Homo sapiens: one gene and its partner. The protein of the gene in region 1 interacts with the protein of each later gene in a pairwise test. Each region holds a gene or a part of one and is shown in the gene's direction. Other genes may lie near its edges. The genes, in order: CT45A1 and FAM133A.

Evidence for each region.
Region 2: the proteins of CT45A1 (region 1) and FAM133A interact in binary tests that used the Homo sapiens proteins (3 or more experiments, as listed by UniProt).

The regions. Positions count from the first base shown.
Region 1 is NC_000023.11:135,719,886-135,723,717, forward strand, and holds the end of CT45A1 (cancer/testis antigen family 45 member A1), read left to right. Parts: intron 1-1,142; coding exon 1,143-1,391; intron 1,392-1,772; coding exon 1,773-1,866; intron 1,867-3,090; coding exon 3,091-3,148; 3' UTR 3,149-3,343; downstream 3,344-3,832.
Region 2 is NC_000023.11:93,677,013-93,680,844, forward strand, and holds part of FAM133A (protein FAM133A), read left to right. Parts: intron 1-903; exon of another isoform or gene 904-938; intron 939-3,832.

The DNA.
Region 1 (3,832 bases):
GAACCGACTGCGAAGCAGCTTTGGTCTGTGAGGTTCTGCGTGGCCTGGCCTCCGTCACCCTCTCCTCACACGGGCCCCATCATCTCCTGACTCTCTCTGCTACTGTCCTTCACCCCGTAGTGCCCGGTCCATCCCCACTCCAGCCCATATCCTTGGCCTCACCGCAACCTGGAACTCCCCCTCTGCCTCTGCGCAGGCAGCTCTGCTTTCTCCTTCAAGCCCTGCCCAAGGGTACCTCCACAGAAGGCTCTGCCCAACCAGCAGCAGCTCCTGGGGCTCCCTCTGCTGCTGTTGCCCACAGGCCTGTGGACTGCTTCCTTACCACTAGCCCAACACTGTATGTTTCATTTGCTCATTGTGCACGTACTGTCTGACCGCCCCATGAGGATGTGAGCTCCAGAAGGGCAGGGAACGTTGCTCTCTGGGCTGTTTACTGCTGATCCCCAGCTACCGGCACGCTGCCTGCCACAGACGATGAATAAATGAGAGGTGTCAGACCTGGAGTGAAAAGAAAGTCACTTTTGTGAGACAGAAAGGAAGGATGAGGAAAATCATACACTAAAAGGGATTTTTTGTTGATGGAGTACATGTAGAACTTTCAGCAGTAATGGCCACCTCTATTTTCTCAGAATATGTTTGATGTAGAGAGGAGGCTGGTTGAGGTGTGTCCAAGTTGTCTGGCTTCCAGCTTAGTAAAACATGGCAGTTTGTAAGTGAATTTGAGAAATCATGATATCAAGTGAGACTTGCTGCTTTCAACTTGTAAAGCATAACAAGCTGAAACTGTCCCATGAGTACCAGGGATCTGTGAATGTTGCTTTAGAGTTGTACTGCCTTACTTGGTTTCCATGTCTATTCATAGGGCCAGAAAATAAGAGGTGGTTTTATTGTATTATGTGTCCTGGCCTCCGTTTGTCAGGCCTGGGATTTCTCCCTGGTGTATCCTCCCATTTATGAAATAAATAATTCCCTAGAAACTGAGGAGCACATAGATGTACCCAGAGGGGTGATGAAACACACATATCTCACAGCTCAGCTTCTCAGTTTGATTTCCAGAGCTGTCATTCATGAGGTCTATGTGGAGGGGAAAGAAAGTGGTCAAACACCAACTGATGGCTTTTACTCAAAATCTGTTTCACCAGAGCTTATGACAGGACATGCTATTCCACCCAGCCAATTGGATTCTCAGATTGATGACTTCACTGGTTTCAGCAAAGATAGGATGATGCAGAAACCTGGTAGCAATGCACCTGTGGGAGGAAACGTTACCAGCAGTTTCTCTGGAGATGACCTAGAATGCAGAGAAACAGCCTCCTCTCCCAAAAGCCAACGAGAAATTAATGCTGATATAAAACGTAAATTAGTGAAGGAACTCCGATGCGTTGGACAAAGTAAGTAATATAAGAATGTCTGTTTTATAAAACTATAGGAAGTCTCTCTTTCTATGATTCAGAAGATATTCATGTTGCCTGTTGAGTTTCATTCTTTGCCAGAGTTGAGATTGCACATAATTTATGGTGGTTCCTCTTTTCTTTGACTAAAGCATGTACATTTTTTCTTTTTCTTTTCTTACTTGGTTATGGTTAAAGGAGTTACATTCGTATGTATGTGCAGGTGTCTTTTTTATTATTTAGGTTTTGTATGTGCAGGTATCTTGATTTAAGCATTTAAAACATTTCAGCCTCTGAAGCATGATTGCTGAGGTGTAGATTCACTTCTATTCTTCTTTATATTTGATAATACTGAAGTTTTTTTTTTTTCAACATCTTCAGAATATGAAAAAATCTTCGAAATGCTTGAAGGAGTGCAAGGACCTACTGCAGTCAGGAAGCGATTTTTTGAATCCATCATCAAGGAAGCAGCAAGGTGGGTAGAAATAGGAACTGTCCAATTTCTTTAAGCACTTGGGCTCAATAGAGCACTGGGGGTGAGCGTTGGGGAACAGCCCCTGCCTTGCGTTTCTCAAACCCTGGTCCTCACTCACAGTTACGGCTGTCTCCACAGTTACTTAGGCTAATGTTATCTGAGTGTAACTCATTCTTCGAAGACTATGGAGACTTCCATTTTCACCATAGTCTGAGGTGCGCATTGTCCCTCAATTGACACTCTTTGTATTTGCTAGACTACCTCTTTTTAAAAAATTTGTGTAGGCACATAGCAGATGCATATATTTCTGGGCTATATGAGATATTGTGATACAGACAACAATGTGTAATAATCACATCAAGGTAAGTGGGGTTTCTATCACCTCAAGCTTTTATCCTTTGCGTTACAGAGAATACAATTATACTCTTCATTATTTTTAAATGTGCAATTAAATTATTACCGACTATAGTCACCCTGTTTGGCTATGAAATACGACATCTTATTTATTCCATACTTCTACGTATTAATCATCCCCACTTCCCACACCCTCCACCCCCACTAACCTTTGTAGCCTCTGGTAACTGTCATTCTACTCTCTATCTCCATTAGTTCAGTTGTTTTACACTTTTACTCCCAAAAATAAGTGAGAACATGTGAAGTTTGTCTTTCTGTGCCTGGCTTATTTCACTTAACATAAGGACCTTCGGTTCTATCCGTGTTGTTGCAAATGACTGAATCTCATTCTTTTTTTTATGGCTAAACAGTACTCTGTGGTGTATATGTACCATATTTTCTTTACCCATTCATGTGTTAGTGGACACTTAGGTTGCTTCCAAATCTTGGCTACTGTGGATGGTGCTGCAACAAACATGGGAGTGCAGATATCTGTTCGGTACACTGACTTCCTTTCTCTTGGGTATATACCCAGCAGTGGGATTGCTGGATCATATGATAGCTCCATTTTTAGTTGTTTGAGGAACCTCCAAACTGTTCTTCATAGTTAGTTGTTGTAGTAATTTATATTCTCACCAACAGTGTATGAAGGTTCCCTTTTCTCCACACCCTTGCCAGCATTTGTTATGCCGGCTAGACTGCCTCTTACCATGCAGATACATTTCTATTTCCATGCTGACTGTTACTTCATCTTTCTATCTGTCACAGCGCTTCCTACAGCATAGGTTCTTTGGCTATCTTTTGGTTAATGACATGTCTCTTTCTTTTCAGATGTATGAGACGAGACTTTGTTAAGCACCTTAAGAAGAAACTGAAACGTATGATTTGAGAATACTTGTCCCTGGAGGATTATCACACCCCAAATGCATAATCTCGTTAATGATTGAGGAGAGAAAAGGATCAGATTGCTGTTTTCTACAATGGAGCAGGATATTGCTGAAGTCTCCTGGCATATGTTACCGAATCAAATAGCCTTCCAGAGGCTAAGAAATTTCTGTTAGTAAAAGATGTTCTTTTTCCCAAAGCATTTTATTTGAAAGGATAACTTGTGTTTTGGTTATTTTGTATTCCCACCTGTGCTGGTAGATATTATTAACCCATTAGGTAAATACTATTACAGTCGTGGTTTCTGCAGCAGCTCACAGTGTTGTAGCTGGTATTTATCACTACGTTCTTTCGCTACCCATTTCACATTCCCTTTGCCCTGAGATAGCATGTCAGTTGGTCATGATGCTTGGCCTGGCAGGATGACTCAAACCTTCATTACGGAAGAGTCTGAACCATTAGATGTCCTGCCTGGATGGGGTTGCTGTGATCTTCCATTAACTCTAATCGAAAAACACGGGAGGACTAAGAAGCTCTCTAGACATATCACACATACTCTTCCTTAGCCCCTGGTGTAGTGGGAACCCGATCTCAATGTTGAAATCTGTATCATCAGCCTTCAACGAAAAGGCAGAACTAATGGGAGATTTTAATGTGTGTGTGTGTGTATTTTACACACACACACACA
Region 2 (3,832 bases), about 42 Mb from region 1:
AATTGATGCATTATATCCTATTTGTTCTACTGTGAAATATAAGTATTAGTTTTATCATATCATATGCTTGTTTTTCTTAATAAGGTTAGATATAAATTATTTGCATAGTGATATGTTTTTTTGTTCAATTAACATGATTTTTTGGCGGGGGGGCTAAATGTTCATGCTTCTACATGAGATGATACATAACACAGAATCTGATAGTATACTCAGACTGAACATAGTACATTAACATCTGTTGATACCTCCCTTAATATGAACATACACACAATCCCTTCCACCACCCACTCCTACCACACAAACACGCAAGGTATATAATGACAAGTGTAGCAGCATTATCTTTTTTTGTAGGTATCTAAGAAGCAAAGCATTGCAAGTTCATTTATTTTTGAATGACTTCCTCCTGTTCTTCTTGGACAAGTTGTATCTGAATACACAAGTGAATTCTTTTTTAAAAACCATTTTATTGATGGATAATAGGCACACAATAAATGTGTGTATCTGTGAAAGTATCACCACAGACAAAATAATGAAAATTGTGTCATCCCTGAAAGTTTCCTCATATGCCTTTGAATCCCTCCTCTTGTCCCTAGATATTCACTGATCTGTTTTCTGTTCCTATAGATGAATTTGCATTTTCTAAAATTTTATATAAGTGGAATAATGTAGTATGTTCCTCTTTTTGCCTGTCTTTGCAGACTTATTTTGAAATTTACCCATGTTGTTGTGTGTATCAGGAGTTTATTTTTCCTGTTTACTGCTGAGTAATTATTCATTACCTGGCAATACTACAATTTGTTGATGGGCATTTTTGTTGTTTTGAGTTCTGGGCTACTACAAATAAGGCTGCTATGATCATTGGTATATAAGTTTTGTATGGACATATGTTTTAATTTCTTTTAGAAAAATACATAGGAGTGGAATGACTGGATCACATGGTAGGTGTATGTTTCACTTTTTAAGAAATTACCTGTTTTCCAAAGTGGTTGTTTTGCATTTCCACCAATAGTGCTCACATTTGATATGGGCAGTGTTTTAAAAGTTAGCCATTCTAATAAGTATTCAGTAGTATTTCATTGTGATCTTAATTTATATTTCTTTGATGACTAATGATGTTGAATACCTTTTCATGTGCTGATTTGCCATCCACATATCTTTTTTGGTGAAGTGACCATTTGTATTTTGTCCATTTAAAAAAATAGGATTGTTGTTTTATCATTAAGTTTTGATAGTTCTTTATATACTCTGGATGCAAGTTCTTTATCAGTTATAGCTTCTGCAAATATTTTCTCTCAGACTGCATATTTTCTTTGCATTCTCTTAAGGGTGCCTTTTACTGTTTTTAAAGAGGAAATGTTAGTAATTTTTATATTGATACATCATATTTTGGGGGCACATGTGATTTCAATACATGAATACAATGTGTAATGGTCAAATCAGGGTAATTGGGATAAGAAGTTTGCAATTTCGATGAAGTCCAGTTTATCTTGTTTTTCTTCTATGGAGCATACTTTGTGTGTCATCTCTTAGAAATCTTTGCTTAACCCAAAGTCACAATTATTTTCTTCCATTTTTTTTAAGTTTTATACTTTTAGGTTTTGCATTTAGGTCTGATACATTTTTGCAAAAAGTACAAGGTATGGATTGAAGGTTTATTTCTTTTGATATAGATATGCAGTTGTTCCAGCACTATTTGTTGAATAGACTGTCTTTTCACCACTGATTTGCCTTTGCACATTTGTCAAAATTAGCTGTCCTTGTATGTGTGGGTCTATGTTGGAAGCTCTAATCTGTTCCTTTGTGTACTGATTTTAATGACACAATCGGTAGTTATCCATTTGTTAGATGCATTTGGGAAAGAATGAGAACAAAATTGTGTGATAACAGAATTTCATTACAATGGAGACAGTCACAGGAGCTGGATCTTCATCCTTGACCTTTCACTTCTGCTCCCAACTATGTGAGATAAAGGGTCAGATAACAGCAGTAAAAACCTAGAAAAGAAATAACAAAAAGAAACATAAATGTTCTTCTATTTTGTGGAGTTGCCAGTGTGTAGATGTCCATAGCCCAGCCACAAGAATGGTAGTTAGCATTATTCAGGAGCACAAATAATGCCCTTGTTTTTCTCACTCCTGATAAAGAGAGACCTGCTTGCAAAAATGGAAATATTGAATAGAAAGTATCTTTAAGCTGTTAATAAATTATAGTTAAAAAAAGAATAGTAATAAAACATTGGTTGTTATGATGTTACTATTATTAATAGTAATAAATAAAACATTGGTTGTTTTATAACATTTCAAACCATAGCAGTGGTTTTCAAACAAAAATATTTCATTTTATACTTATTCCTATAATACAGATATACTCAAATTAACAGAATATGGTATGTTGTTATAGATTTTTATTTTTTAAGGAAACATTTCTGAATTGCGTTTCTAGCAATATACCCTTAACTGCATGGAGTTTAAAAGGGAAGTTTAATGCAACATAAGATAAGGAAAATTGTTTCCCAATTTGGATATTTAACATAGCGCTATTTTTTAAAGAAATTTTAATTGTCATGTAAAAATTACATATATTTTGCCATATAACATGAAGTTTTGGTATATGTATACATTGTTGAATGACTAAATCAAGCATTTTAACATATATATTACCGTAAATACTTATTTTTTTCTGGTGAGAACACTCAAAATCTCTCTTACCTCATTCCTGTCTAACTGAAATGTGTCTTTTTTTTTTTTTTTTTTTTGAGACGGAGTCTCGCTTTGTTGCCCAGGCTGGAGTGCAGTTTGTGATCTCGGCTCACTGCAACCTCCACCTCTCAGGTTCAAGTGATTCTCCTGCCTCAGTCTCCCGTGTAGCTGGGGCTTCAGGTGTGTACCACCACTCCTGGCAAATTTTTTTTTTTTTTTTTTTTTTTTTTTTTTTTTTTTTTTTTTTAGTAGAGACAGGGTTTCACCATATTAGCCAGGATGGTCTCCATCTCCTGATCTCGTGATCCGCCCACATTGGTCTCCCAAATTGCTGGGATTACAGGCATGAGCCACTGCACCAGGCCGTGTTGTTTCTTTTGACAGTATCTCCTCAAACCCCCAACTCCCAATTGTCTAGTAACCACCCATTTTACTCTTTGTTTCTATGAATGTGACATTTTTATGCTCCACATGTGAGATCACATGGTATTTGTCTGTTCCTGGCTTATTTCACTTAGCATATTGTTCTCCAGATTTGTCTATGTTTCCACAAATGACAAGATTTCCCTTTTTAAAGTCTGATCAATACTTTACTGTGTATACATACCATATTTTCTTTATCCATTCATCAACTGATGGACACTTAGGTTTATTCCATATCTTGGCTATTGTACCTAATGCTGCAATGAAAATGGGAGTACAGATATCTCTTCAATGTATTCATTTCATATCCTTTGGATATATCCTCAGTACTGGGATTACTAGATCATATGGTAGTTCCATTCTTACAGTAGTTTTGAGGAATGTCCATACTGTTTTCCATAATGGCTATACTAATCCACATTACCAGCAACAGTTTACAAGGGTTAACTTTTCTCCATATCCTCACCAACACTTACCTTTCGTCTTTTTGATAATAGCTGTCCTAACAGGCATGAGATGATATCTCATTATGTTTTTAATTTGCATTTACCTGATGATTAGTGATGTCAAGTATTTTTTCATATACCTATTGGCGATTTGTATGCCTTTTGAAAAACATCTCTTCAGATCTTTTACTCATTTTAAAAAATTATGTTTTTTAAAATTACTGAGTTGTTTGAGTTCCTTATATATTTTGAATATTTAACTCC